7 linked regions of the Homo sapiens genome follow. The protein of the gene in region 1 purifies or fractionates together with the protein of each later gene. This does not show direct contact. Each region holds a gene or a part of one and is shown in the gene's direction. Other genes may lie near its edges. The genes, in order: SCPEP1, ITIH2, C15orf39, HHIPL1, SLC26A6, STAP1 and ZNF507.

The links.
Region 2: the proteins of SCPEP1 (region 1) and ITIH2 purify together in Homo sapiens (affinity purification with mass spectrometry; one large-scale study listed by BioGRID and IntAct). This does not show direct contact.
Region 3: the proteins of SCPEP1 (region 1) and C15orf39 purify together in Homo sapiens (affinity purification with mass spectrometry; one large-scale study listed by BioGRID and IntAct). This does not show direct contact.
Region 4: the proteins of SCPEP1 (region 1) and HHIPL1 purify together in Homo sapiens (co-immunoprecipitation; one large-scale study listed by IntAct). This does not show direct contact.
Region 5: the proteins of SCPEP1 (region 1) and SLC26A6 purify together in Homo sapiens (affinity purification with mass spectrometry; one large-scale study listed by BioGRID and IntAct). This does not show direct contact.
Region 6: the proteins of SCPEP1 (region 1) and STAP1 purify together in Homo sapiens (affinity purification with mass spectrometry; one large-scale study listed by BioGRID and IntAct). This does not show direct contact.
Region 7: the proteins of SCPEP1 (region 1) and ZNF507 purify together in Homo sapiens (affinity purification with mass spectrometry; one large-scale study listed by BioGRID and IntAct). This does not show direct contact.

The regions. Positions count from the first base shown.
Region 1 is NC_000017.11:56,984,258-56,988,290, forward strand, and holds part of SCPEP1 (retinoid-inducible serine carboxypeptidase precursor), read left to right. Parts: intron 1-1,120; coding exon 1,121-1,210; intron 1,211-3,437; coding exon 3,438-3,593; intron 3,594-3,958; coding exon 3,959-4,033. UniProt on the Homo sapiens protein: May be involved in vascular wall and kidney homeostasis.
Region 2 is NC_000010.11:7,706,316-7,709,815, forward strand, and holds part of ITIH2 (inter-alpha-trypsin inhibitor heavy chain H2 precursor), read left to right. Parts: intron 1-885; coding exon 886-918; intron 919-2,706; coding exon 2,707-2,876; intron 2,877-3,500. UniProt on the Homo sapiens protein: May act as a carrier of hyaluronan in serum or as a binding protein between hyaluronan and other matrix protein, including those on cell surfaces in tissues to regulate the localization, synthesis and degradation of hyaluronan which are essential to cells undergoing biological processes.
Region 3 is NC_000015.10:75,200,333-75,204,955, forward strand, and holds the start of C15orf39 (uncharacterized protein C15orf39), read left to right. Parts: upstream 1-1,549; 5' UTR 1,550-1,727; intron 1,728-4,623.
Region 4 is NC_000014.9:99,643,497-99,648,250, forward strand, and holds the start of HHIPL1 (HHIP-like protein 1 isoform a precursor), read left to right. Parts: upstream 1-1,632; 5' UTR 1,633-1,711; coding exon 1,712-1,966; intron 1,967-2,192; exon of another isoform or gene 2,193-2,359; intron 2,360-4,754.
Region 5 is NC_000003.12:48,625,244-48,629,276, reverse strand, and holds the end of SLC26A6 (solute carrier family 26 member 6), read left to right. Parts: intron 1-562; coding exon 563-655; intron 656-735; coding exon 736-843; coding exon of another isoform or gene 844-862; intron 863-1,238; coding exon 1,239-1,331; intron 1,332-2,204; coding exon of another isoform or gene 2,205-2,221; coding exon 2,222-2,401; intron 2,402-2,591; coding exon 2,592-2,646; intron 2,647-2,922; coding exon 2,923-3,059; intron 3,060-3,276; coding exon 3,277-3,291; 3' UTR 3,292-3,554; downstream 3,555-4,033. UniProt on the Homo sapiens protein: Apical membrane anion-exchanger with wide epithelial distribution that plays a role as a component of the pH buffering system for maintaining acid-base homeostasis.
Region 6 is NC_000004.12:67,603,614-67,608,257, forward strand, and holds the end of STAP1 (signal-transducing adaptor protein 1), read left to right. Parts: intron 1-2,682; coding exon 2,683-2,744; 3' UTR 2,745-3,724; downstream 3,725-4,644. UniProt on the Homo sapiens protein: In BCR signaling, appears to function as a docking protein acting downstream of TEC and participates in a positive feedback loop by increasing the activity of TEC.
Region 7 is NC_000019.10:32,344,197-32,348,713, forward strand, and holds the start of ZNF507 (zinc finger protein 507), read left to right. Parts: upstream 1-1,413; 5' UTR 1,414-1,587; intron 1,588-3,048; 5' UTR 3,049-3,142; intron 3,143-3,288; exon of another isoform or gene 3,289-3,434; intron 3,435-4,517. UniProt on the Homo sapiens protein: May be involved in transcriptional regulation.

The DNA.
Region 1 (4,033 bases):
GCTAGTGCACAGAGAGGCCATATCCTTTTATTCTAGGTCCTCTGCCCTTTCCCTCGCCTCAGCTGACAGGGCCCTTCTCATAGACTCCCCACCTCAATTGGCCCCTGGATTTGTCCAGAAAAAGCACTGACCATCTTTTCCCCTGACCACCTCCCAAAGAGCCTCCTCTTGTCTCAATTAGAAAGCCCACCCAACCTGTCCTATTTGCCTCTTAGTTTCTTTTTTCTCTGAAGCCCTCAGAGCCCATAGAACTGCCCCCAACACCGAGCTGTGGTTCAGAATCCTGCCTTTCCCTCTCCCATGGATGCTCACAGTATCAAACTCTCCCTGCCCTGGGACTTTAGAAACTGCTGCATTATATCCACAGAATCTGCTTGATCAAACTGCTTCTAAGTCTGGGTCCCTTATCAATCCACAGGGACTCTGAAGAGTCTCCCATCTCCTGGGGAGAGGGTGATGGAGGAAGAGTCAGAAGGCCCAGTGTCTAGTCCGGTTAGAGCTCCTTCAGGTCAGCAAGGCCTACGGCAGGCCAAGGCTCCAGCTCAGAAAATCAGGAGGCAGCTGGGTGTGATGGCTCACACCTGTAATCCCAGCACTTTGGGAGGCTGAGGCGGGAGGATTGCTTGAGCCCAGGAGTTTGAGACCAGCCTGGGCAACATGGTGAAACCTCACCTCTACAAAAAATACAAAAATTAGCCGGGCTGGGCATGGTGGTGTGCGCCTATAGTTCCAACTACTTGAGGGGGCTGAGGCGGGAGGATCACTTGAACCCCAGAGGTAGAAGCTGTGGTGAGCCGAGATTGCACCACTGCACTCCAACCTGGGTGACAAAGTTAGACTCTGTCTGAAAAGAAAAGAAAAGAAAAGAAAAAATCAGGAGTCAGGAACATTCCATTGTGGACCTCTTAGCTCAGCTCTGCTCCTTTCAGAGAAAAACCTCAGCAGTTACTAGGGGAGCTTTGCTAATGTGGAAGTCCCTGGTTCACTAGAGAAATTGTGTCTTTTGTGCAAATTGACCCAGCCATCACTAACTCATAAACCATCTATAGCAAATGTGGTCATTCATTGTAAAGACTAAGATCTGACTAAAATTTTTGTTTGTTTCTTCTCTCTTCCATAGGGCGGTCCAGGCGGTTCTAGCACTGGATTTGGAAACTTTGAGGAAATTGGGCCCCTTGACAGTGATCTCAAACCACGGAAAACCACCTGGGTACAGTGAGGACAGTCCTGAGCTAAACCTTGCCCCGTGGCCTCTCAGAGGCCCTGCCCAACTCTGGGAGGGGCCACAAATGTAGCAATCCCTCGCTGTCCTTTTCCTTTTCCTGTGACTACTGAGGCCATGGGCACTTGTCCGCAGGCTTCCTCTCTGGCCTAGCTTCTCTCCCATTTCTCAGGACAGCTTATCTTGCACCAGTCTGCCTCGCCTTCTCCAAAACAACCCCTCTCTCCAGCTGCCTTCAAAAACCTACTACAGCAGACACCTGGGACCCTGTGTTATGCACGCTGGCCATCTCCGCGGCCTCAGACACCATGGTTGCACCCTCCAGCCACAGCCCCCAGTCCTTTTCTCTCTCTCCTATCCTCCTACTTGTATCTTGACTTCCCCTTTCAATGTCTCTCTTGCTGCCCTTCTCACACCTCCCCCTCATTCTTATCGTCTCTTCCTTCCCTCACCCCTCTGTGGTCAACTCCCATATCCTTCTCCCTTTACAGCCTTGCCAAACCCAGCCTTGGGTCACTCCCACTGTCCACCTGCTTAGCCCTTACGCCCAGGCTGCCCATGGGCAGAACTGCACACCCACCCTGGGGCTGCTGCACAGCGTGGGCCCCACTCAGGGCTTGTGGCTGTTCCTCTCTCTGTGCTCCCACTCTCCCGGCTGCACCTATTGCTATGAATGTTCTCCACTTTCCTCAGTGCTCCTCCTCCAGCCTCCCTCTCGCATTAGAAGCTAAGCTTTCTGCTCTTTTTTTTTTTTTTTGGAAATGGAATGTCCCTCCGTCACCAAGGCTAGAGTGCAGTGGCACGATCTCAGCTCACTGCAACCTCTGCCTCCTGGATTCAAGCGATTCTCCTGCCTCAGCCTCCCGAGTAGCTGGGATTATAGGCATGCGCCAGCACGCCCGGCTAATTTTTGTATTTTTAGGAGAGACGGGGTTTTACCATGCTGGTCAGGCTGGTCTTAAACTCTTGACCTCGTGATCCACCTGCCTCAGCTTCCCAAAGTGCTGGGATTACAGGTGTGAGCCACTGTGCCCGGCCACTTTCTGGTCTTTCTTTGTTTTTTTTTTTCTGTTTTTTTGTTTTTGAGACAGAGTCTCGCTCTTTCGCCCAGGCCAGAGTGCAGTGGCGCTATCTCGGCTCGCTGCAAGCTCCGCCTCCCGGGTTCACACCATTCTCCTGCCTCAGCCTCCTGAGTAGCTGGGACTACAGGCGCCCGCCACTGCGCCTGGCTAATTTTTTGTATTTTTAGTAGAGGTGGGATTTCACCATGTTAGCCAGGATGGTCTCGATCTCCTGACCTCGTGATCCTCCCACCTCAGCCTCCCAAAGTGCTGGGATTACAGGCGTGAGCCACCGTGCGCGGCCTCTGGTCTTTCTTAAGTGCTTCCTACTCTTGCCTCAGGGTCTTTGTACATGCTGTCCTCTTGGCCTGGGCCTTTCCTGTGCTTGGTTCCAACAGAAGTCTCACTTCCAGGAGTGGTTGTAGAGTCATCCCCTACCTCCACTCCCCACCCCCATTGTCCCCAAGCCTCCTAGAACTAAAAGGGCCATATGAGTGAGGACCATGGTCCCAGTCCTGATGCTGCCACTGCCTGTCCGATCTTGTGACCTTAGGCACATTCTGGGCTCTTTCTGGGCTTTAATTTCCTCATCAGCAAGGGACATGGCTGGACTGTGTCATTATTCAGGATCTTTTATATGTAAATTTTATAACTTTCAACCTCTTTGGAAAAGGTATTAGAATAAATTCTGCTCTTGCAGTGTACAGAGAAGCCAGGACAATGTGGAAATTTGATGCATTTCCAAGAAAACTGATGTGTGTCCAGACTTTGAGTGTCCTCTGGCTTCTTCGAGTTAGTGCATAGACTGTCTCTGCATGCTTCTTTCTGCGCTAGTTTATTACATTTAGTACATTTGTATTGTATGAAAAGCAACAGCCCAGATTATTTGATCCCCGTGTGTGTTAATCTTTCCTTCCTGCCTCTCCCTTTTTTTTTTTTTGCGGCGGCGGGGGCGGTTGGCCTTTCTTTGTTTTTGTTTTTTTTTCTATGTTCCTGTCCCTTATTTTTAAAAATCTCTTTTAGCAACAGGGATATCATCACCACGCTGGTATCCTCACATGTGTGGGTTTTGCTGAGCTAGTAGAAAATGATCCAAAGATGATTGGTGACCAAATGTCTGATTGCAACATTTCGTTTTCCTCCGTGGTACATAGCTCCAGGCTGCCAGTCTCCTATTTGTGGATAATCCCGTGGGCACTGGGTTCAGTTATGTGAATGGTAGTGGTGCCTATGCCAAGGACCTGGCTATGGTGGCTTCAGACATGATGGTTCTCCTGAAGACCTTCTTCAGTTGCCACAAAGAATTCCAGGTAAGCAAAGACTCAGGAACAGCTAAGTAAAGGGCTGGCAATATCAACTCTACATCCATCAGCATAAACCTGAACTGCCTCCAGAGTTTAATGCCTAGCTGATTTCAGAGAAAACTTTTTAATTCCCAAGATTGGGTTGTGGACTTTTGTTTCTGTCATCTCTAAAGTTGATATTTAACTTGAAAGAATGACCTTGGAGTGAGCATTCTAATCAGACGCAATAATCAGATATGGAGTGGTGGGGGAGGAAGACAAAGCAGATTTGTTTTTTCTGGTCATTACGTGCAATAGAAATTTGAAATTAATTTGTGTGACTCAAAAAGCAATCAAGGTAGTTAATTCTGTGTAATTCCTTTTCTTGCTAGACAGTTCCATTCTACATTTTCTCAGAGTCCTATGGAGGAAAAATGGCAGCTGGCATTGGTCTAGAGCTTTATAAG
Region 2 (3,500 bases), on another chromosome or scaffold:
AACACCCGACTTCTTGGATCTATTATTAACAGCTCACCAAACATTACATGTTCACCCACCACCCTTAAGCCATTCACTTTCAAAGGCAAGGGAATCGCCTTTGTTCATTTCCTCAGGACAGTCAAGTGTATGGATAATCTCCTAGCATGGTGGTTAAAAGCATAGAATTTTCTAGGTGCCAGTCACTGTGTTTGCCTCAGGGGTTACACTGTGGAGGAAATACATGAAAATCCCTGCTTTTATGTAGCTTAGTTTAAAGGAAGAGACAGACTTTAGTCAAATAATCCCTCAAATAGAATGAATCATTATGAAACAAGGTGAGCACTCTGCAGGAAGGAATATGCTGCTGCAAAAACACTTAGTAAAGGAAACCGACCTAGTCTTGGGGTGTTAGAGATTTTCACTGGAGGAATTCTGCTGGAGCTGAGATCTGAAGGGTGAGTAGGAGTTCTCCATATGGGGGTTGAGGAACCTAGCAGGGGCACTGCAAACAGTGGGAACAGCATGCCCACAGCCTCATGGCCGAATGGAGGATCAAAGTCTCCATTCAACTGAGTAAAAAATAGAGCAAATAGCATCAAGGGGATATACGCTACCCAGGATGCATTTGGTTGAATATTTTTATTTAAAAATTACTTGTTCTAGCATTATATCCAAGAATGACACACACGCCACCAGAACTGGTTGAGAAACTTATTGAGAAACTCACCAGTGGGAAAATAGTTTTCAAGAATATTCAATATTTATGTCTCAACTCCAGTGAATGAATAACAGCTCAGTATTGAAGAAAAATAAAATTTCTTTTTTGACTGAGAAAACGGTTTTGGCTCTCAAGGTAATAAGTGACATACAGTTGAAGAATGATTGTCTAACTTCCTTTCACAGAGAAGCCTTCCAGGAGAATCGGAAGAAATGATGGTAAGTTGACTTGATGTTGTTACAGATTGAATGATTTTCCTGTTAATAATTACCAGGAAATCAATCTGGGTGTCTCTTTTTTCTTCATCACCGAGTATTTACCTGACTTTCGAAATACTGCCTTGCCCAACTGTTTGCAAGTGTTTCTAAAATTCAGCATTGAAGAGTGCAGTCTTTACAGACAGGAGAGAGGCCACCAAGAGCTGAAGGGGCCCTTCTCTTCATTTTCTTGAGTTTTGCCATATATCATAGGTTCCTTCCCACTGTATAAATTTATGTATTTATTCCTACTCAACCTTTTTGATTTATGTATTTATTTTTACGTTTTCATTTTTATTTTTATTTTTTTGAGACAGAGTTTCACTTTTGTTGCCCAGGCTGGAGTGCAATGGCATGATCTCAGCTCACTGCAACCTCTGCCCCCTGGGTTCAAGAGATTCTCTGCCTCAGCCTCTCAAGTAGCTGGGATTACAGGCATATGTCTCCTCGCCCAGCTAATTTTTGTGTTTTTAGTAGAGATGGGGTTTCACCATGTTGGCCAGGCTGGTCTCGAACTCCTGACCTCGGGTGATCCACCTCCCTCAGCCTCCCAAAGTGCTGGGATTACAGGCATGAGCCATTGCTTCCAGCACCATTTTGATTTAAAGTATGACACCTGACAGCTTTGGAAAATAAAAGAGTGCCCGTGGAAAGGAACTTTTAAACACAAAACGGCCCAGTTCCCTGAGATGTTCAGAGTAGACCATCCTGTGGCAAGAAAACAGCCTGAGGACAAGTGGCTTATGTTGTGCTTCCTGCCCTGAATTGGCAGAAACTGCCAGAAGTGCACACTTCAGGGGGAGGAAGGACACATAGATTAGCCTGGATTTTATTTTAGCTTGAGGTGAGTTGCATGGTTAATTAGTCGAAAGGTTTAATGTTGGACTACAAAGTTTGGGGAATGAGACCTGGTATTGAGATAAGTAAATTCTTTTGGAGAAAAAAGCAAAATCTAATGGGTCTCATAGTTGTCCATAGACCTGAAGGAGCTTGCAGCTCTCAGTCACCTCCTGAAAGGTGTGGGTTTCTAGGACCTTGCCTTTGAGCACACTTACATATGTGATTCTTCACACAGGAGCTGCTTTAAATCAGTAGTGATCGGGTAAGGAGGTCCAGAGTGTTGGACCAATACTTGCATCAGAATGCCCTGTCCAAGATCAATGTCTCTTGCTTACACCCGTCACTGTTCTCCTAGCTTGTTTTGACTTGGGGGAGGAGAAAAGGACTGCAGATGAAATTGTAATAGAGGAGATTAAAGAAGGTAGAGAGCTGTAAGGGGGGGTTGGTGGAGGCCATATGTGTGTTTCCACCCCACAGCACCCCTGTGTGACCCCTACTAAAGATACAACCAAGTTCCTCTTTCAACCTCGCAATCCAGTATCCTCTCCCCAGCTGATGGTCTTGCATTTGGAGTTATTACCTGGACTTCCTCAATCCAATCTGGCTTCCCACACCGTTTTCTACTTGTATTCTAATTTTTGAAAAATCATTATTTATAGACTCATAGGGCTGAAAAATGCCTTTTAGCTCAAAGTATCTTGAAACCAAGGCAGACTTCTGCTCATTGCGGGTTCCAAGAAGTTAGGAGAATGCTTAACCATACATGAATTCTGTCCTTACCAAGGCCCTGGAATTGTTCTGCTAGTAAAACAAGTAAAATGTAGTGTTGTTAACATCAAATGCACTACATTTGATGAAGTTCTGTGTGATTTTTCTATCAGTACAGTTATGCTTTCTTGCCAATTTCAGGAAGAGGTTGATCAAGTAACTCTTTATAGCTATAAAGTCCAGTCTACTATTACTTCTCGGATGGCCACCACCATGATCCAGAGCAAAGTGGTGAACAATTCCCCGCAGCCTCAGAATGTCGTGTTTGATGTTCAGATCCCCAAAGGAGCATTCATTTCCAACTTCTCCATGTGAGTAACTTCTGTGTAGAGCCAGAAATTGTAGGTGCTCTACTCACAGAATCAAAACCCCTCATAGTTAGAATGGACTTTAGTGGTCAACTGTCCCAGAGGACCGGCTGGATGTCAAGGGTCATTGTGAGGTTGGTCCCAATAATTTTCTCCTCTTCAAAGCGTTAGAACTTGTGAATTATTTGCTTTTTGTTTCTAATAAGCTAAAGCAAACTTAAGGCTATCTCTGTGGTAACAACCTCATACTTACTTGCATTTTAATATACTTTCTAGGGAGGAGAAAAATATACTGGGTTGCCCTGGCTTATAGGAAACCACATAAGAGCGTGTGCACAGCAGGTCAATGCCATCTGCCATATGTTTCTCTATGGGAAAAAAAAAACAAGTTGAGAACCACAGATTAAATCTAATTACTTATCCAGTGCTTGACCTCCTCTATAACACCGCTGACAAGTGTGTGATGATTTCCTTGATGATAAACTCACTTTTCCCAAGGCAATCAACTCAGTGATTGACAGCTCTGTTAAGAGTCCTTTCTTATACTTCAAATATTTTCCACTTTCTACCCAATGACTCTAGTGATAATCACATAGAATTTTTAAAAAGCTCTCTACAAAATACATA
Region 3 (4,623 bases), on another chromosome or scaffold:
GATGGCTGCTCATCCTGGCCTGGTTGGGTCCCATTCCAACTCAGGGAAATTGGAGAGACCACTGGGCACATCTGAGCACACAACCTGAGCGTCCTAGACCCCAAGGGCTAAGAACACAGCCCTCCTTCCACCCCACTAGCAGGGCAGGGACAGGGTCGCCGGCGCGGTGCTGGAGGAGGAGGGGCGAGCAGAGTTGGTAAGGGGCAAGAGCAGTGAATAGCCTGTGACCCACGGGGCTGCAGGCTGGGGTTAAGGGTATGATGTTTGGTGTGACCCCTAGCTGTCCGCGCGCAGATGTATTTTCCTGACGCTAAGGTGTGGCTGCAGGAAGGGCCCCAGGCTGGGAGCCAGGAGATCTGGGATTTTGTCCCAGCCTGCTGAGTGACCTGGGGAAAGCCCCAACCCTCTCTGAGTGTCTCTCCCTATATGGTTCCCGACTCTATTTCTAAGGTCCTTCCAGCTCTAAATGAAGTGACACTCTCCCCCCACCTCCCGCCCCCGCTCCCCAGGTGACCTCACTTCCTCTTCCTACCTGCAGCGCCCAGCCCCTCCTCCTCAGCTCCAGCTGCTCCAGCTGCTTGGTGATTCTTGGAACCTGCAGCCTCAGGCCTGCTCTGCTCTGACTCAGGCAGAACTTACCTTTGGGATCTGAGGGGATAGTTTTGCTTCCTGAACTGACTCTGACCTTTGGCATGTCCACCTGCCCTCCCCTTCCCCACTGCACACACCTGTTCCCAGTCCTCGGGCAGCCCAGGAGCTTTGACGGACCAGATTCCTTCAGATAAAGTAGCAGCACTGAGGGGCTCTCATCCACAGTCAGATGGTCCAGGGAGAGGCACCCCTTCCCCCCTCCAGCCTCTCTTTGCAACACACCATTCCTGGCTGGGCGTGCTCCACTCCACCCGCCTCACAGGCTGCGCGCCGGTCTGCCTCATGGAGGGAGCCTCACCCAGGCTACTTTGCAAATCCCCCAGCACCCTCATTCCCGGCCCTTCCAGGGATGGGGAGATTGCCGCTTCCTCAGACAGTTGCCGTGCCCTAGCAGGAGTCTGGAAATTGCCCTCATTGACTACAACGAAATGAGGGGACAGATCAAGGAGCCCTTCTCCAGCCCCCTAATACACTAGTGCTGGACAGGGGAATGCCGGCACCTACTGTGTGCCAGATATTTGCAAACACCCTTTTCCAAGCTTACACCGCCACCGCTATGAGGAAGACAGAATTCCACTTTTGCAAATAAGGAAACTGAAGCTCAGCGAGGTCAAGCGGCAGGCGCAAGGTCACATCGCAGCAAGTGGCAGTGAATGAACGATCTAAGGGAGCGACTGAGGGCGCGTGACGGGCCCGCCGGGCACTGGTTCGTGGAGCGTGGCGGTTACGGGCGGTGCACAGCGCCCGCAGCCCGCTCCTAGCGAGCTGGCCCCACGCGGGCCCTCCGCACCCGCTGCCCACAGGAGCGCAGGCTCCCAGAGGCGGGGCCGGGCTCTTCCCCAACCCTGCGAGTCGCCCCGCCCCCGCCCCGCCCCCAGCCCGCCCCGCCCGGGACCGCAGACGGCGCCCAGCGGCGGCGCGAACGGCAGCTAGGAGGGTTGCTCCGGGCTTGGTGCTCACTGCGACTTCCCGCGCAGGGCCCGGTCGGACTAGGACCCGCGGCCTGAGAGACGCTGGAGGATGCGGACGCGGAGGCCGCCTGGGGTAGCGGCGGCGGGAGTCCTGGCGCTCTGCAGGTAGGAGCTCGCCCGCTCGGCGGGCGCGGAAACTTGGGCCGAGTTTGCGGGCGGCGCGTGGAGAAGGGGCGGGTGGCGCTGCCCCAGGGCGCCCCTACCGGCCGGCCCGGGGACTGAGGGAGCCGCGCCTGGGCCGAGGGGCTGCGGCTTCTGGCTGCCGCCGGCCCCCCGCGAACGGGCTGCGGGGCAGGGGTGGCGCTGCTGCTCCGACTTTCCCCGGACTTCGAGGCTCCCGGGACCTGGTAGCGCTCTGGGTCTCCGGCGGAGAACAGGCGCCTAATCTGGCGAGAAGGAACTCAGGCCGAGCCCTCCGGCCTCCCGCAGGACCCTGTCACGTGGATTGCTGGGGGATGGCGTTGAGGAGGAGGTATGGGGACAAGGGGGCACTGGAGGGCTGGGCCTGGGGGCGCCGGGCGCTGAGGCACCGCGGGGCCCTGGACGCGCCCTGCTGGGATGGGACGGCCCTGCGGTTTTCTCGCCACCTCTTGACTCACCCCTCTGGCCTCAGCCCAGGCTGGCAGGATCGCCCTGAGGCGGAGGCTGCCCGGACCCTGTCGCCGGGCCGCCCCTGTTCCGGGACCTCCCGCCGGTCCGCGGGCGTCGGTGTGGGGCTGGGTGCGCGGGCCTGCCTGCGTGCACACGTATGCCCGGGGCCCGAGCGAGGGGAGAGCGCAGTTCTGGAATGGCGTGTGTGCAGATGTGGGCCATGCACGTACGTGCAGGCACGGGTTTGCATGCGTGGCGGCGGCCTGTGTGTCAGCCTGCTGGATGCACGTGCGTCTCGGCGCCGCCGGGAGGGGCTTGGGGACACCCGGAAGCCCGCCAGGTCGGGTGCGGCGGCAGCCTCTAAGCGAAATCGGCTGTGGGCCCTAGGCACCCGAGTTATGTTCAGGGCGGGTAGGGGAAAGGGGATAGAGACCGATCCCGTTCGCTTTCCCCTCCACTGGAGACTTTGGGCTGCCCCAGGTTGGGTTGTAGCGTCTGGAGAGCCCAGAGCCTCAGGTAGGGAAGGTGGGAGATGGGAGAACACTCGGCGAGGCCCGATCCAGCCCTCCGGGAGAATCCAGATGCTGGCCACAATTGGGCAGGAATCGCGCTCTTCTTCCTGGTCTTTGCCATCGGCCATCCCGAGGCCCCTAGAAGGTGAAAGTGGGAACAGAGAGCTGTTTCCTTTCCCACTGCGTAAGGCAGGGGCGGTGCTGCGGTGGTGGGCTCTTCTCCGGGACCCTGGCCTGGGTGCTGGCTGAGTGACGTTGGAGCTTGGCAGAGAGGATCAACAGAGCTGCCTCTCAAGGATGATCTGAGCCTGCTCCCTGGGCACCTGCCCTTTCCGAGAGCTTGCTTGCCTCAGTATGGGTCAGGGAAGGAGGCACCTACATTTTGGCAACTGTCTTGAGTGGAGGAGTCGTCTCCCTTGAGAGAGTGTATCCTGGGCTTTCCACCTCCTACTGGCAGGAGATCAGGTCATTCCCACACCCCTAAGAGTTCTCTGTTGGCTCCCTGAAGCCGCCACCCCTCCCACAAAGACTCCTGAGGGTCCCAGGTGGTTTCCTGTCTATTGACTGGGTCCCAGATAGGGGCCTCAAGAAGTCTCCAGAGCAAAGGGTATTCCATGGGCTGAGACCCAGGAGAGAGGGACTCCTGGGGTGGGGGTGGGGACCCAGCAGACCCCAAGAAGCATGTGGGGGAGGTGAGACCAAAGTCAGTACTTAACCCAGAGTGTCCCAAGGGTGGAGGTGGGGAGGATCCACACTTCAAAACCCTACAGTTCCTTCTCACAGCATTGCTGTGGAGTGAGATGGGGGCTTTCACCCCTCGATAGCAGGTTTCTATCATAGGACACTGCTGTTGGGACTGTCACCTGTGTCCTAATGGCCCCTCTGTGTCTTCTCTAGGCTGGCCTGAGGTGTGGGGTTCTGTCCAGGAGATGAACCAGCTTGCTTTCTGGGTCTGCCTTGGTGGAAGTGGGCATTGGCCCCCACACTAGCCTTGTGTTTTCTAACCCCAAAATGTGCCGGTCTAACTCAGCCTGTGGCTGTCATTGGCTCCAACCAGAAGAGGCAAGGAGAGGGCTGGTCCTTGCTTGCCAGTCACTGAAACCTGTGACACTTTGCCCTAATCATAGCAAGATTGAGCTAGGTGGTCCTTTCTAAGCTACTGAGAGTTTCCAGGAATAGGGTGCTGGCTGGGGGAGGTAGAGGTAGGTCAGTGTGGCCCCAGAAGACAGGCTTCAGATGAGCCCCTAACGGGTTACTGGGTGCCTGCTGCCCTGAGGGGCCTCAGTCCCCATCCTTCCTTGGTCTTGTCTTAGAGCTTTGTCTTTTTTCAGCACATAGTTTTTCCATCAATACAATGGGAGTAGTGGCTAAGTAGCACTCTGGCCCCTGGGGCCTCCCTCCCTGGACTTTTTTCTTTTCTTTTCTTTTCTTTTTTTTTGTTTTGTTTTTTGTTTTTTGTGTTTTTTTGAGGTGGAGTCTCACTCTGCTGCCCAGGCTGGAAGTGCAGTAGCACAATCTTGGCTCACTGCAACCTCTGCCTCCTGAGTTCACGCAATTCTCCTGCCTCAGCCTTCAGCGTAGCTGGGATTACAGGCATGCACAACCATGCCTGGCTAATTTTTTTGTATTTTTAGTAGAGACAGCGTTTCACCATGTTGGTCAGGTTGGTCTTGAACTCCTGACCTCAAATGATCCGCACACCTCGGCTTCCCAAAGTGCTGGGATTACAGGTGTGAGCCACAGCACCTAGCCACCTCCCTGGACTTTCACACACGCCCCTGACGCTGTCTTGGCCCCACCCTGCCATGTGCCTAGGAATCGCCATCTGCAGCTTGGGGGCTGGGGGTGGATCCAGGCTCCTCATGCTCTGGGACCTTCCTGCTGGTGCTGCAGCACCA
Region 4 (4,754 bases), on another chromosome or scaffold:
GCTGTAGGAGCCCAAACCTCATGGCTGTGGCCCAGGCTCTGTGTCACTTCCACCTCTGTACACTCATCTGGAGCCCTGTGTTGATGTGTGACTATCACCCAGTTCTGAGTCCCAGCTGGGAAGTAGGCGCCATCGTGCCCTCCGATTCCATCCTGGCTCTGCCTATTCCCAGCTGTCTGTGCAGGAAGCCGTTGCAGGCCGCATTTCCCACCCTAGCAGCCCTCTGCTAGGTTCAGCCAATGAAAGCCACAGGTGGGAGTTGGAGGGGAAGTGGCAGGGAGAAGCCGGGGTATTTCTCCTCCTCTGTCTGTGCAGAATCTCTGACAGTGGCTATCTCCAGCTGTGGCCAGACAGGCCTTGTGAGGGTCCAGCTTTGACAAGGTGACCATAGCTCCTTGGCTCCAGTAACATCTGCTCTTCCTGCATCAAGGACCTGGGGACTGTTCCTACTGTTGCTGATCTCAAGGTTACTTCACTGAGCCCTGTATGGCTTCTTAGCCTCTTTGGCTTCAAGTCCCTGCGTTAAATTCCCCGTGTTTCAAATACTCAGAGATGTTTGGCTGTGCGGAGACCCTGACTCTTACACTGCACCTGTTCAGGCCAGAGCCACAGACCTCTGAGTGCTCCAGCCCTGCCGCATCTCATCCACCCCCAGCTCTGCCAGGAGCATGGGCCCAAAGACAGAAACATGATCCCCCAGGACAGTCCAAAGAGACCTGCAGAGGACGGATGTGTGCGTTGGGGCCATGAAGATGGAGTAGGAGCTCACTGGACAGAGAAGATGGGGAAGGACACTCCAGGGAGAAGCAAACGCTGAGGTCCACTTGAGAAAAATGCCTGGGTGGTTTTGGTGCTGTGAGATTCTAGGGTAGGTGAGACAGTGTGTGTGTGTTTGTCTGTGTGGGTGGTTTTGGTGCCATGAGATTCTGGGGTAGGTAAGACAGCGTGTGTGCGTCTGTATGTGTGTGGGGGGGTGGGGCGGGGTTGGGTCTGAATCTCCAGCGGGGGCAGCGGAACAAAGGGCTGGATGCCCATCCCAGGAGGTAGATTCATCAGTGCTCCCTATGCGAGAGTGGAAGTGGGGAGCCCCAGTGGGTCCTGGGCTGCAGGAGAATCCGCTGCCCCAGGAGCAGAGACTGGGAAGAAGCCCACAGTAAGGGCAAAGGGTGGACTGCGGAGACTGCTCCGTCCTCCCTCCCCACCCCTACGCCAGGTTTCACTTCTCCCTGAGAGTCCTGGGGCAACACCCCCTGTTCTTTCCCTCGCACCCCCATTTTTAAAATGTTACGTGGGAGCTTTCGGGGACGGGCTGCGGGCATCCGTTTCCCTAGCCCAGTGGGAGGTGGAACCGAAGCCCAGGAGTCCAGGCCTCTGGCCCTGCGCCTCCCTGGCTAAAGAGCGCCCTGTGGGGAGGAAGCAGGGCCCCAGGCGGAACCGGGAAAACACACCGGGGCTTTAAACAGACCGGGCCACTCCCATCGAATTTGGAAAGCGGTTAAAAGAGGTCGTGCCGCATTCTGCGCCGCGTCCCTCTTCCTTCAGTCCCGCCGAGTGTCCCCGACCAGAGGTGACCTCCTAGAAGGGGAGGTCCCCAAACTCGAGGCCCTGCGTGTAGGGAAGGGGAGCGCCCGCCCCTTCCCTGCCGCCGCGAGCGCCCCGGGAGGGGACCGGGGCTGCCGTCCCTCCGCCTCTTCCCCCGCGGGGCGTAGCGATGGCCCGGGCCAGGGCCGGGGCGCTGCTGGCGCTTTGGGTGCTCGGGGCCGCCGCGCATCCGCAGTGCCTGGACTTCAGGCCGCCCTTCCGGCCGACGCAGCCGCTGCGCCTCTGCGCGCAGTACTCGGACTTCGGCTGCTGCGATGAGGGGCGCGACGCCGAGCTGACCCGCCGCTTCTGGGCCCTGGCGAGCCGCGTGGACGCCGCCGAGTGGGCCGCGTGCGCCGGCTACGCGAGGGACCTGCTGTGCCAGGTGAGCGGGCGCGCGGCCACCGGGCGGGGCGGGGCGCGGGAGGCCGAGTCCTGGAGCAGAGATCGGAACCCCGCGGGGGCGAGGGCCAAGAGTGGGCGGCGGACTCGGGAACTCTAAGCCCCAACAGGGAGTCATTTGGCACGGGGCGGGGAGACCGCGCATCCCAGGACGACTCTTGGCTTTGCCATTCATTAGTTTTGTGACTTGGGCCTTCTCGGGGCCTCAGTTTCCCCTCCTGAAGCAGGAAGGACGGACGGACGGACAGATGATGTCATCATTTCCTCAGAGGTTGGGGGCTCTTCTGCCCCAGTCCCCTGGAGTCGACCCCTCAGCGTCCCACCCCGAGCAGCTGCACCCTTGTCGGGGTACCAAGGTGGAGAGGCATCTGTCCCGGTCAGTGCTCCTTTGTGTTGTCCCCGGGGCAGTGAAAGCAGGGGGCCCTGGCGTGGGCGTGGTCAACGTGTGGCCCGGGTTTGTTGAGGGGGTTGGGGCCACTGTCCCCCACGAGCGTCTCACCCCCATCCTGATGCCCTTGCCACTTCCGCCACCACCTCTGTGGGTGCTGTGCCCTCTCCTGGGGATGGCGCCCTGGCCTGCAGAAGCTCTCTCAAGACTGAGCGACAGCTCTTTGTTGAAGCCCCTGGGCCCCCCATCTTCCCTCTGAGGGTGGAGCCCCTGCTTCTGTGCACACCTGGTGGTGCCACCGCTATTTGTTTTCCTCTTGTGGGAGTCTGAGGCCCCAGGGCCTGACCACACCCAAGTGGGCAAATGTTGCCTGGCTGAATGCAGAAATGGAGCAGGACGGGCAGCCCCAAGGCATTCCTGCCTCAGCATCTGGGCAGTGAGAGGCCTGGGGTGGAGAGGCCCCAGGGGCCAGGGCCGTGTCCCAGCCTTCGGCCAGCAGGGGCAGGTGGTGTGGGGAAGGGCAAGAAGGCTGACTTGGAGTTGGAGTTTGATCCTGGCTCTGTCACTTCCCCAGCTTCGTGACCTGGGCAGGTCACTGCTGCACCTCACAATATCTTTAAAATGAAGCTGAGTATGGTGGCTTATGCCTGTAATCCCAGCACTTTGGGAGGCCAAGGTGGGCAGATCACTTGAGGTCAGGAGTTCGAGACCAGCCTGGCCAACATGGCGAAACTCCATCTCTACAAAAATACAAAAATTAACTGGGCATGTTGGGGAGCTCCTGTAATCCCAGCTACTCGGGAGGCTGAGGCAGGAGAAGCACTTGACTCTGGGAGGCAGAGGTTGCAGTGAGCCAAGATTGAGCCACTGCACCCCAGCCTGGGCAACAGAGCAAGACTCCGTCTCAAAAATATAATATAATATAATATGATATGATATGATATGATATGATATGATATGATATGATATAATATAATATAATATAATATAATATGATATAATATGATACATAAAATAAATAAAATAAAACCTTAACCACCCCCCTGGGTGGCCATGCAGATTAAATGCCACATACTAGGGGCTCGGTAAGTGTTTGCAGTTGGATTTCTCGAGGGCTTCCTTGGCCCTCACTGGCTGCCCAGCCCTGGGAAGGGTCCAGGTGAGGCTTGGAGCCCGAATCAAGGAAGACTCAGAGGCAGGCAGGGACTTGCCCAGTGGTCGCACAGCCCAGCGGTGGTTGAGGTGGGGACATGGACCACACTCGCTGAAGCGAGCTCATATCTTAGGTGGGAAGCAGTAGACTCTGGGAGGATGAGGAGGGGGCCCTGGGGAGCTCCAGAATGCAACAGAGGGTGGGCTGGCCACCTTTAGGTGGGCTCTGCTGGACTCCCATGCTGTACACCTCAAGGGCACGGGAATGGTCTGGCCAAGCGTCTGCCTCCCTCACCAGCCTGGGGGCTCCTCAGGACCAGGTCCTTTGGTCTCCCTACCCCCATCACATAGCAGAGTTCCTGCATCCATGCCACATTTGTCTATTGAGCACTTGCTATGTGCCAGGCTCAGCACGGCAGTGAGGTGGGCAGGTGGATGGAGGAAGGGAAGGGTCAGTCCTGATGCTGTCCCCTGGCAGGTTTCTTGGGAAACTTCCCAGGACAGCCTGGCTTTAAGCAACCAGCAGTTAGCAGGAGTGACCACTAACACTTCAGCCCAGGCGTCTCTGAGAGTGACCTCATGTCTGGAGTGAGCTTAGAGACGGCGGCTGAGGCTGGGTTATGGTTTCACTGACGGGGCCTCCTGGAGCATGCTGGCGGGAGGACCATGCTCTCTGCTAGCCAAGGCAGAGTCTGCATTTGGCACCTCCTGATTTCCACACGGGGAGGTGGTGGAGGTGCCTTATTCATAGGTCTCTGTCAGTGTGGAGGCACTCAGGCCTTCACACCTGCTTTGGGGGGATGGGAGACTCTTTCCTGAGGCTTTGCTTGTCCAGTAAGTGCCTGTGTCCTCTGGAGGAGAGAGGACAGCCATGGCACGTGGCATCCCCAGTGCATCTGGTGTGAGCTTCCACATCGCTAACCTCCCCTGTGACTGGGGTTGCCTCTCTAAGCCACTAAAATCATCAAAGCATGGTTTCTGATGGAGATCTCCATGAAATGTATTCTATGGGCTCATGTATTCAGCAGGCTCTTCCTGAGCCTGTTAGGAGGCAGCCCTGTGCTGGATGCTGGGCCCAAAAACAGTTGGCAAGTCACAGGCCCAGTCTCAAAAATCCCCTTCATCACTTCAGGAGACTGACACACACAGGAAGGTGCCAGAAATTCCTCAAGGAGTGTAGGAACAAGGCCACATACCTCAGGGAAGGCTTCCTGAATGTTGGTTGCATGTT
Region 5 (4,033 bases), on another chromosome or scaffold:
TTATCTCCTGAGAGGTCTTGGGCCAAGTGCTAGGAACATAGGTGGGGGGCTCTGGAATAAAACAAGGCTGTTGCCTGCAACATGGGCACAGTGCAATTAGGCAGTGCGGGGAGGAATTAAGGGGTCTGAGACATGGGAGAGGATGAGGGGGCAGCCCAGCCCTTACCATGCATGCCTGGAGCCCAGCAGAGACCCGGGCTGTGACCCGAATGGGGTGGGAGCGGGGAAGGTCTGATTGATATGACAGCCTAGGAGGACCTCTGTCTGGGTGCAGAAAACAGAACACAAGGCAGGGGTTGGAAACCCAAGAGAAAGGTTAAGAGCCTGTGAAGCCTGCCTGGGTGGTGGCAGGAGAGGTGGGGAGGGAGAGGCACTGTGGGGGGATGGGGATGACACCGTCGGGCTTGTGGCCTAAGCCCCTGGGAGGGCCTGGACTGCAGCCTGGGGAGCAGAGGGCTGGGCGGTGGCAGGCACTGGGCACACTAGGGAAGGAAAGGCAGGAGAACAGGATGCAGCCAGGAGAGAGGAGATTCAGCCACCACCAGTTCTGCCTCATCCCCAGGCCAAGGAAGTCCGGGGGGTGAAGGTCTTCCGCTCCTCGGCCACCGTGTACTTTGCCAATGCTGAGTTCTACAGTGATGCGCTGAAGCAGAGGGTGAGACGGAGTCCCCAGGATGGGTGTCAGGCCCCAGCTCCCAGAGAGCTCACCAACCCTTCTCTGATGTTTGCCTCCAGTGTGGTGTGGATGTCGACTTCCTCATCTCCCAGAAGAAGAAACTGCTCAAGAAGCAGGAGCAGCTGAAGCTGAAGCAACTGCAGAAAGAGGAGAAGCTTCGGAAACAGGCAGGGCCCCTTTTGTCTGGTGACCCCCATCTCCTGCCCCCTGTTCCCTGCCCCAGCCTTTCTCCTGGCCCCCGACTCCTCCCTCGTCCTCACTCCTCATCCCTTCCCCTTTCTCCCTCATGCTCCCAGGGACCCTGCTTCACTCCCCTAGCAGGTCCGGGCTCTAGGCAGCATTTTCTCTCCCATCATCTGAACCAGTGACAGTGAGAACCGTCACAGTCCTCTTCCCTTTCACGGCTGTTCCAGGAGCTTCAGCCTGGCTGCTGCAGGTCCCACAGCTTCTGGTCCTGGCCCACCCACCTGCCCAGCACCAGGGGGCATCACCAGGCCTATGTGACATGGCTGTCATGGCAGCCGGGCTAGCTGTTTCCCATTCCCTGTCTTCCCTGGTGTAGGCTGCCTCCCCCAAGGGCGCCTCAGTTTCCATTAATGTCAACACCAGCCTTGAAGACATGAGGAGCAACAACGTTGAGGACTGCAAGATGATGGTGAGACTGGAGGTGGGAAAGGAGGTGACAGCTGTGAGCTGCAGAGATGCAGGATCCACATGTCTCATGAGGAATGCCATGGACCCAGCAGCTGTGGGCTCGAGGGTGTTGCGCCGATGGCAGGAGGAGTGGGGAGGCTGGGTCAGATATTCTTCAGGGAGCGTCGTGATATGCCACAGAATCTAGGCTTAGATTCTCAGGCCTAGATGAAGACCTTGAATTTGTAGATCCCACAAGACTTCCCCCAGAGTCTGCTCATGGGTAGAGGAAAGGGATGGGGTATATGGGAGAAAATCAAGGGGTCAAAGGCAGGCGTGGTGGTACGCGCCTGTAGTCCCAGCTCTTCGGGAGGCTAAGGCGGGAAAATCATTTGAGCCCAGGAGCTCGGGGCTGCAGTGCGCTCTAATGGTGCCTGTGAATAACCACTGCATTCAGCCTGGGCAATGAAGCGAGACCCCGTCTCTAAAAAAAAAATTGAGGGGTCAAAGAGGATGCCAAACTTAATTAGAGACTGAGACAGGGCAGGGTGCCGAGGTGTCTGCATGCGTTTCATGTGGATGCCCGTGTCTATTCTGGCCTGCTCCTGGGCCCCCTCCCCACTCAGCCCTGGCTGATGAGAATGGGACAGGGACTCCCTTCTCGTGTCCCTGTGCAGCGTCGGCCCAGGAGGTAGCAGAGCAGTATATGCACATCTGGGTGTGCCCTCCTGCATGTCCCCACACATCTGTCATTCCTGTCTTTGCACACCTATGTGACTCCCGCATGTTTGTGTCCTTATGTGTCCCATGCATGCTCCCCATCTGACCTTGCGTGTTCTCGCGTGTCTGTGTGCGGCCAGTCCTGCCTTCACTCTCTCATGGGTGGCCCTGGCAGCATGTCTGGCTCCCCAGCAGGTGAGCTCAGGAGATAAGATGGAAGATGCAACAGCCAATGGTCAAGAAGACTCCAAGGCCCCAGATGGGTCCACACTGAAGGCCCTGGGCCTGCCTCAGCCAGACTTCCACAGCCTCATCCTGGACCTGGGTGCCCTCTCCTTTGTGGACACTGTGTGCCTCAAGAGCCTGAAGAATGTAAGGACGGGGGCAGGCCAAGGCCCCTCGAGCTTCCACACTGACCCTGTAATTTGCCCTGAGAGCACTCCCAGCCTCTGACTCCCCAAACCCTCAAAGCTCCCCTTCTAAACTCCCTCCCCAAGCCTGCCCGAGCCCCCCTCTGAGTCCCTGAGCCTCCCTCTGAGGCTGGCCCCCTTTTCCGCTACAGATTTTCCATGACTTCCGGGAGATTGAGGTGGAGGTGTACATGGCGGCCTGCCACAGTGAGTAGGGTGGGAACAGCAGGAGGGACCTGGGAAGAGGGTAGGATACTTTTGGCCAAGGGGTTTTCCAAGTAGCACAAGGAAAAAGTCTTTCTCTGGAACTGGAGGTCAGAGGTGTCCTGGGAGACAGGAGTCCAGGGTTACAAGTGATGTGGATTCAGCTGTAGCCTCAGGGGTGGAGGTCAGGGGTGATGAGGTCAGGGCATTCTGTTGGCTCCCGGGAGTTGAGTTCCTAGAGGTTCTGAGAGTCAGGGGAGGCCTACTTCTTGCCCACAGGCCCTGTGGTCAGCCAGCTTGAGGCTGGGCACTTCTTCGATGCATCCATCACCAAGAAGCATCTCTTTGCCTCTGTCCATGATGCTGTCACCTTTGCCCTCCAACACCCGAGGCCTGTCCCCGACAGCCCTGTTTCGGTGAGCCTACCTCTGGCCTGCCAAGCTCTTTTTTGTTAATCTATTGCTTGTCCCCACCCTGGCCCCAGCTCCAGGGAGTCTTTCCTGGTGGCCATGGCTCTGTCCCCAGTGGGCCCAGTGCTTTCTCCGCTGTCTTTGGATAAAGCTGTTCTAGGGGCGGGGGTTGGTCTGTGTCCTTTGGAAACTGACTAGAGCCTCCCCTCCTCTGCCTGCTCAGGTCACCAGACTCTGAACATGCTACATCCTGCCCAAGACTGCACCTCTGGAGGTGCAGGGCACCCTTGAGAAGCCCCTCACCCCTAGGCCGCCTCCAGGTGCTACCCAGGAGTCCCCTCCATGTACACACACACAACTCAGGGAAGGAGGTCCTGGGACTCCAAGTTCAGCGCTCCAGGTCTGGGACAGGGCCTGCATGCAGTCAGGCTGGCAGTGGCGCGGTACAGGGAGGGAACTGGTGCATATTTTAGCCTCAGGAATAAAGATTTGTCTGCTCAACTCCAGTCTCTGCTGTGGCTTGGTGGGGCCCTGGTGGTGGGTGGTCCACAGCTGTGGCTGCTGACCCTTCCTGTGCCCTGAAGGTGAGACGGGGCAGAAGGTGTAGGAAGGACTCGGGAGGTTAGGGTACAGAGCAGGGGAGCTGTGGAGGCATCCCCTGTTAAGGTCTCTCCCCAGCCATGCATAGCCCTCACTCGCTGTCTCCTCAGATGTGAAACAGTTGGAACCAGAGCTGCTTCTCAGGAATAATTTGCTCTCAGGAATACCCGAGAAGGTACAGGGCAGCGTGGGTGCCAATGGGCAGTCCCTGGAGGATACAGAGTGAACACCTAGGAGCAGCTGTTCCCCCACACTGCTGCTCTATGCTTAAGAATAAGCATGACCGGGCCGGGCACGGTGGTTCACACCTGTAATCCCAGCACTTTGGGAAGCAGAGGCAGGTGGATCACTTGACATCAGGAGTTCAAGAACATCCTGGC
Region 6 (4,644 bases), on another chromosome or scaffold:
AGTCCTTCCCTTCAAAGCAGTAGATTCCCTTCTGGCCCAGGGCGTGTCTAGAAATGCCCAGAAGCTAGGGCCTGAAATGGAGGCCTCATGACTCTGCCTGATGCCCTGTTCTACTGTGGGTGAGCTGCTTTCCAACTGAGTTGCTTTCCAAGTTTATGCTCCCCTCTTCTCTACTCAAGCAGAAAGGAGGAGTCTTTCCTGGAGTTGTGCTGCCTGAGATTGGGGGAGGGGTGCCACAAGCACTCCCCTGGTCACCCCAGCTGGTGTCTCACTAGGTCATGTGCACTACATGTCCACTGGCTCCAAGCCCAGCACAGCACAGGACTTGCCCAGGACCCTCAGTGTTTGTGGCCTAAACTGCCTTTCAAATTTATTTCGAACCCTAGATCACTTTAGCCTGTGGTGTTGAGACTAGTCAGAGCTCAGATTCTGCCCACTGGGATGGATGATTTCTCTCTGGCAAGAGCTGGTCTAAATGCTCCCTTCTGTGGTCCTGGCTGAATTCTGCCCTGTGTTGCTTTCTACTGTGACAAGTAGCACTGAGTTACAATGCAAAGTGCCACAGTCACTGTCTACTTCTTTTCCTAAGCACACAGATTCTCTCTCTGCACGAGCAGCCACTGCTGGGAGATGGGGGAAGAGACCAGGTTGGCAATTCAAGACTATTTTTCCTACCCTCTTCAGTGTCTCTTTCCTTGCTATGATGTTAAAACCAAGTACTGTAATTGCTCACCGGATTTTTGGTTCTTATTAAGGTGCTTTCTAGTGTAGACAGTTGTTTAATTTGGTGTTCCTGTGGTGGTGGGGGCTGATAGCTGGAGGGTTCTATTTGGCCATCTTGCTCCACCTCCTCTCTCCATTGGGTTTTTATAGCTTTTCTTTGTTGAGAACATCTATCTTTATATTCATTTCAAGAATGTTTATGACCACCTCATGAAGCATAGCTGCTTTAAGGTCTTCATCTGATAATTTCAACATCTTGGTTATCTTAGTGTTGGCATCCATTGTCTTTTCCCTTGAAAACTGGGGAATTGGTCAAATTCCTTCTTTTGTATATCAAGTAATTCCTGGTTTTTCATATATCAAGTAATTCTGAATTGTGTCTTGGACATTTTGAATATTATGTTGTGAGCCTCTGGGTCCTGTTAAAATTCTCTGGTGCATTTTTTAAAAGCAGGCAACCATCTTGATTAGATTGAACCAGTTCTCTCTTACTTTCTGTGGGAAGCCATTCCAATATTGGTTCAGTTTTCAAAGCTTCTGTTATGCTGTTTTGGGTCTGTATTCAGCCTGGGACTTGGTTGTGGTTTATGCCTTAGTTTAGCTGTCAACGCCTTTGCCATCTGTTTTGTATCTGGTTCTGTGCATGCACAATTCAGAGGTGAGCCTGGAATTTGTGTCACTTCATACACAGAACTAGGAAATAACTCTTTTCCAGCTGTCACCTCTCTGGGATTTCTCCATACTCTCGAGCCGCCAAGGGTCCTTTTTCCTGGTGTTCTAGCTAGAATGATGGAGCTTATTAATGACACCTGTGCTGTAATTGCAGTTCTGTGAGACTGCAGTTGCCCAATCTCTCCAAGAAAGTTAGAGATAAGAAAGAGAAAAATGTAATTCCAATTCTCCCCTCTGCCCACCTTTCCTGATTTCTCTGGCTGGAAGGCTAAATTTTCTCTTGGGGTTTTAGGTGCCCATGCTGTCACTGCCAAAGTACTGCACCTTGACTAGGGGCCCCACCCTCAGGGCAGGGCCAGGGAAGAAAAAATAGACAATACAAAAAAAAAAAAAAAGCACCTTAAGGATTTTAGAAACAGACAACCAGATTGCTATTGGTATATGACTGAATGTGTTCAGTTTGCTTTGTGGTCGGGAACAAACTACTCAGCCTCCCCCTGCATTTCAGATGCCTTTGTTATAGGGACTGGGGAATGACATAAGAACAGATGGAATTAGAGGGTCCTGTGAAGAAAGACTTTAAATAATTAGAATATTATCTGTAGTGTAACGTATTTTCTTTCAAAAGCAGAAAAATGATGGAAAAGTACATGACAATGAAAATAGGACTTTTTAAGAAAAGCTACACAAAGATAAAAACTTATCTTGACAAATAATGCTGATATTTTAAGAAAACTTTGTGGAACCCTAACATTGCTTCAGGAATTTGGACTCATAGCTGGCTGTGGCACAGTGAGACTGCTAGTACATCAAACTTGGGAAATGGGAGTTGTAGAGCAGGTAAGGGTTCCAATCTGGAGATTTGGAAAAAGCTAATATGTAATAAAATATTATCTAAAAGAAAATAAGATTTTTTTGATCCCTGTTAACCCATGTCAGCATTTGGCTCTCTCTTACACCAGAAGACAAGAGCAATAATGGAACAAGAATGGTCAAAGATATTTCCCAACTCCAGAAATTAGCAGTTTAAACTAAAAGCCGCTTCAAAATATAAGGCCTATTAAGCTAAAGAGGAAGAAAAAAATTATTAGGTACAAAGTTACAGGTCCAGGATAAAATAAAATTTAAAAAAGCATCTGAATATTCAGTATTTATTTTCCTAACAATTACTAAACACACCAGCAATGTTCCACACACGAGCAGGAAAATCAACTCACTGAAAATAAAGAACCACCGTTTTCTACAATATTGGTTCGCTAATTAAGTTTTTCTACCCACAATTTCTAGGTCAAGAACCCAGTATGGAAGGGAGAAGTGAAAAGTTGAAGAAAAATCCACACATTGCATGAAATACAATGTGAAAGCTCCTTTGTATATCTTGGTAATTTATATTTTCAAAACGAAGTTCTTACTTTTAAAGAGAATTACCTATATTCTCCTGATACTGATTACCAAGTCATTCACCTGAACACCAGAATTAGAATTAAACATTGTACCATACAATTTCATTATCTTATCAGAATGAAACCAATTCACAGGGAAACTAGAGACTACGGCTGTGGTGGTAACCTGCAGATATACACATTCCCATGCACTGACATAAGTTGAAAACACATAGTACTTTCTAGATGGAATTTTTTTCTTTAGGCCTCAATGAAATACATTTCCCCTATATAATTCCAACAGCAGTTTCTCTAGTTCTAAATTTTACCAATTCCCAAAAAACCTAAGTTTTGCTGAAATCTGATTTGACCAATTTATCAAATATGTCATTTTAATTACCTAGCTGGAAGTTAGAGACATGAAATGTACTAGAGGAGCCCTTTTCCAATGGAAATATTATATACCACATTTTTTGTTAATGGAAATAAATGTCTTCATTCCCATGTTTTTCCCTGGTGTCATCTTTTTGCCACTCAAAATCAGCCCATTATTTCCTTACAAAGATGGTGAAAGGCTGTATCATCATCTTGTCGTAAGTACGATGAGCCTGATTATAAGTACCTGGAGTTCTTAAAAATATGGAACCATCAGCCCCAGACTGCATCTACTGAATCAAAATAACAGGGATATTTTTTCATAATTTTTTTCTTCAAAAGCAAACTTCTAAATTGATTTTGATGGTTATCAATTTGGGAATCACACAATCAACTAAGAATGAAAAGATATGGTCTATATTCTACAGGGGAAAGACTATGTGAGACAGAGGGAGAAAACAGCCATTGACAACTCAAGGAGAGAGGCCTCGGGGGGAAAAAAAGATCAACCTGGCCAAAACCTTGAAAATCCGGCTTCTTGACTTGTGAGAAAATAAATTTGTGTTCCTTAATCCACATGGTCTGTGGTATTTGTAATGACAATCCTACCGAACTAATTCAGTGAGCTTCCTGGGATGCCTGAAAATATGAAGAGTTCTCTCAGACTTACTGAATTATAATTTTGGGGGTGGGGGGGCGGCGCTGAGGCTGGTCCAGAAATCTGCCTTTTAAGCATACAACACAGGTAATTGCTATACATAACAAATTTGAGAACCAGTTCTTTAAGATCTACTATAATATGAAGATAAATAATCTGTGTAGCAATATATGCAAAATCAAGTCAGGCTTTCTTTTAAATGGAGAGGCAGTGACAATTAATAAGGAATCATAAATATGACAAATGAAAACATTGAGAAATGCTTTTCTCTATGTCATTTTGATCTTTTAATTTCTGGAGTGTGAAAATACTTTATTAAATTTCAAATGAGATTGTATTTTAGTTTAAACCTGACAAAAAAGTGTATAATAAATATGACCCAATGTTTACTTTTTGTCTAAAAAAAAAATTGGGACATAAAGCCTGAGCATTAATGTTAAGTATTTATTGAAATGTATTGAGTATTTATATAAATCACTGTTAATGTAAAAATTATAAAAGCAGCACATATGTATTATTCTCAAGGGTTTTACAATTGAGTTGGTCAAAATATAGGTAGATGAGACTAAAGAGCTCTAATTTCTTATCATTTCAAAGTGTTGAGTGAATTCTTGCATTCTATAAGAAATTAGAGTGCTTAATATAAAAAACTTTTAAAAAGTAGATTCCTAAAGTCGGTGACACATTGTAGTTGAATGCAATAAATGGAAAAGTAACCGACAAGAGAAACAGAAATCAAAGCCCAGGGCCTTGCCAATGTGGAGAGTCTCACAGGAGACCGACAATACATTTAGCTGGAAGAAACAACAGAAACAGGGCCACAGACATTTCAGA
Region 7 (4,517 bases), on another chromosome or scaffold:
CCTGCTCAATCTCTTACCTTTTATCGAAAAAAAAATTACTCAACATTTTATTTTTTCACAGCTATTTGGTCTAATTGGCAAAGGATTCTGTGGAATAGCAGAATTCTAACTTTGCAGCCGGGCGCGGTGGCTCACGCCGGTAACCCCAGCACTTTGGGAGGCTGAGGCGGGCGGATCATGATGTCAAGAGATCGAGACCATCCTGGCCAACATGGTGAAACCCCGTCTCTACTAAAAATACAAAAAAATTAGCTGGGCATGGTGGCACGCCCTGTAGTGCCAGCTACTCGGGAGGCTGAGGCAGGAGAATCACTTGAACCTGGGAGGTGGAGGTTGCAGTGAGCCGAGATTGCGCCCCTGCACTCCAGCCTGGGGAGAGAGTGAGACTCTGACTCAAAAAAATAAAATAAAAATAAAAATAAAAATTCTAACTTTGCTGGTTTCCTAACCCCCAAATTCAGATGAATTTGAATTCTGAAATACAGTAACAGGAATTATCAGCCTGTCTGATTCTAAATTTTGTTGGATCTTCCTCCCAGGACCGTGGACAGCCCAGCCAGCTGTAAAGGCCTCTAAAAAGATCTGGAACAGATCCCCAAGAGGTATCTCACCAAATGAGTCCATTCCACTACAATGGCCAGAATCTTCAGTTTTACACCCTTGCTCATGCCCACCGCTCACCCGGAGTCCAGACCCAAGCACCATGCTGCGTAGTTCCTAATACGGCAAAACTATCCAGCATTTTTGGTGAAATTGGCTGGAATGCTTCACTTAGTCCGTTTTTCACTGTTAGCAGGAGAACCACCCTAGTATCTTTCATAGAACAGATCCGAATGACAAACACCATCGTGCCCTCGGAGGGCTGAGCTTGTGTTACTGGGTCTGGTCCTACAAACCCTGAAAATCCTGAATCTCTCAAGCAAAGAGATTCCCCAGGGCCAGCTCTGGCCCTTAACAGGCACCCCTTAACGCCAAGCTGCGAATCTGGCTAGGACCTCTATATTTTAGCCAAGAACACCTTGAAATGTACAGTCCTACCAAAGGAACTAATACAAATCCAGAAGCACAAGGCTAAAGAAAAAAAAAAAAAAAACCCCAATGCCCATTGTTGAAAGCCAATTGCGGGGTGAGTGGGGTGATAAGGCTAGCCCACAGCGGATTTAGGCGACGTGGGGAGATGCCAAAGTGAATACACGGTGACTTCTAAATCTAGACGTCTGGAAGGGGCCATGAGAGCCAGACAACTGGGCCCGAACCCCGCCCGGGAGCCAGGGTTTGCAAGGGGCTAAACCGGCTGGGGAGCCTCCCTCTCGCGGGTCCAGCCTCGGCGGCCCGGGACGCCGGTAGGCGGGGCCTGAGCCTCGCCCCGCCCCCGCTGCCCGCCATTCGGGTCACCTGACCCACCCGCGGCTCACGTGATCCGTCCCCAGCGCCGCCATTTTGGAGCTCCGGATGAGGAGGGGGAAACCGGGGGAAAAGAGGGAAAAGAGCCGGGAGAGAGGTGGGCAAGGACGAGGGCGAGGGCACGGCCGGGTCCTGGCTGGCCAAACGAGGCTCGCGGAAGCAGCAGCCGCCGCCTGACCGCAGGTACCGCGCCCCGGGGCCGCCCCTCCGCCCGCTGTTAGCGCCGCCGCCGGCCATGTGCATCCTCCCCTCAGGCCTCTGCCGGCGCTCGCTTCCTCCTCAGCCGGCCGACCCCCGCCCGGTGCTAGCCACAAGCCCCAAGTTCCGTGTCCCGGTTCTGTCTTCTGTGCAGCAAGGCCTGCGGAGACTCTGGGCTTGCCCTGCAGCTGGGGGTGGGGGGAACTTGCTGCTCCCTGCATACTGTCACCAGCCCGGCCCGCCCGCAGGCGTTGCTTCCTTCTCCAGGCGTTGCTTCTTTCTGCAAATGTGAGATCGCTTAGGCCAGCCGGGATGGACCCAGCCACGATGTTCTCACAGCATCTTTTGATTAATTTTCTAAGCTCCCTCATTCCCGACCCATCACCTCAGTCCTTTAGCCAGTGCGTGGTGTAGAAAAAGCTACTACAGAAACGCAGCCCTGGTCTTCTGCATTTATTACCATCCTCTGGAGATAGAATGATGTCTCCAGAGATCACGGAGACCATCAGGGAAAGTTCCCACCTCTTAAGACCTGGGGGCATCGGAATGAATGGTTTGTGTAGAAGGCCGGGATGATTAATAAGGTGGCGGCCACTTTCCCAACCCCAAGGCGGTATTTTTAAGTTTCTGCAGTGGGCTGTAATTTGCTATCAGTCTGCATCGCTCTTCTCAGGCAATTACTGGATTTATCACCTCTTTGAGTTTGCACTTTCTCCAGTACTCCCCTCTCACTCAGAGTATGGGTTGCATTATTGATTAAAAGAAAGCCTGGCCCTTCATTCCTTTACCTCACTAACTCGTTGAAAATTAACTTCAGGGGAGCCCTAAAGATGTTTTTTCTGCCCTGGCAGTGAGCTATTTTACTTAACCGTAATCGATAAGGTAGTTGCATTCTAGGTGAAACGAATAAGCATTTTTTTATCTTTTAGATTTATTCCAGCCAGTATAAGAAACAGTGGCAAAGAAATGTAGGACCAGAGTAGGAAACTGCGTTAGAAGATATATAGGTCACACCACTGTGTCATATCTTTTTATGCTGTTTTTCTGCCTATTGTGCTTGGTTGCAGAATCACTCGTTAGATTGTATTTTTAGTTTAGATTAAAATAGCAATGTGCAATTTATTGTTCCATTCTCATTAGAAAATGTTGTCAGTAAAACCAATAGTGTTGAGTCCAGTACCTAAATTCTGAGGTAAAACAAAATACACAATTATTGGGAGAAGTTTCCAGAGCTATTTTTTCCTAACTTCTGCAAAATCCTCAAGTCGGCTTGTTAGATAAATTATTTAAATTTGCATTACGTAATAGGGTTGCATGAACATTCCTCTGAATTTCTTTTTACATGGAATATTGAGAAATTTTTCACTGCCAAAAAAAAAATCATTACTTTGTTTCACCAAGAAAGAGAAATGTTTTGATACTATATACTTTCGTTCTTGGCCACAGCTGGATTTTGAAGATTGATCCAAGGGACTGTATTAATTTCAGGAATTGATTTGAAAGACACTGGCTCTGCCACTTAACAGCCATGTAACCTTGGGTAAGTCACTTAAACCACACTGAGTGTTTCCTTATTTATAAGACTGTATAACACCCACCTAGCCTGTCCTAAAGAGTTATGAGGATCAGATACCACTAACATGTTTGATAGAGCCTAGCTGTAAGGAGCTGTTACTCTTTTCAGTATTGATATTTTGTACATTTTTATTCTCATTGAGAATTAAGATGAAAATTGGTGTATTAGAGAAAGCATGGTTTTAGAGTGAGATTGGCCTGGATTCCTGTTCTTAAACCAGTTACCACTTTGTGTCTGTGAGTCTCAGGTTTCTCATCTGCAAAAAAAAAAAAAATACACAAAATTTGAATATTACACAAAATCTACAGAGGCATTACTCCCTAGACTTGCACCTCATGGGCAAGGATTTCCTCAGTCATTTTTGTAGTCCCCAGCATTCTGGTTGGCACATTATAGGTGCTCAATAAATGACAGTAAATCTGAATATTGGTTAATGTTAGTTAGACCTTATGTCTTCATTGCAGCTGCCAAATTAGAATATTCTCTCAGGCTATGTGCCAACTAAGAAACTCTAGACTATGAAACTCCATATACTTGTGATATTTATACTCATTTTTTTCTTAGTGGTAATTAATAATTACCTTGGGCTCAGAAGATTTTAAATCAAATAAATTGTAGCCAATATAGTGAGGTAAATCTATAAATAATGTGTAAGCAGTTTCCAGGTAACTTTATAGACAGTTTATAATTCAGGGACCTGAAAGTTCATCTAGCTTCACCCTCTTGTTTTACATCTGAGCAATCTAAAACTCACAGAGACAGTGACTTGCCTAAGGTCACACAGCTAATTGAGGGCACTTTAGGGGAGGGACCCTTGAGCTTATGTCCCCTGCCTTCTTTTGGCTGGAGCAAAATAAATTTGTCATATTTTAGAATTACAATAATCTGGAAGAATGGGGAATTTATTGGCCATTACTTTTATAGCACAATTTTTTTTTTTTTCCCATTTTGGAAAAAACAAATTCTTGTTCTGAAAGAGAAGGTTCTTTTGTATCATATTGTACTTTTCTTCATATAAACACAGAAAATTACAGCCTTTTCTCCAGGCCCACATGAATTGTTCAACTTGATTTTACTCATGATGACCATACTACTGTAATTATAAAGAACTAATTAGATACCCAAATAACCAAATAGCAAATTATAAGGAAATAAAGACAACTGAAATAATTTGGCTCCTAACTTTTTGTGAGAAAGATATTAATTAGAAGCATTTGCCTGTGGAATACTGTTGTCAAGGAAAGATTTGAGAGAGTTGGTGGAAAGGGTTATAGAACTTTTCTGGTTTGGGATACAACTTTTGTTTATTACTTATTTATTGGTAACAATTTAATATATT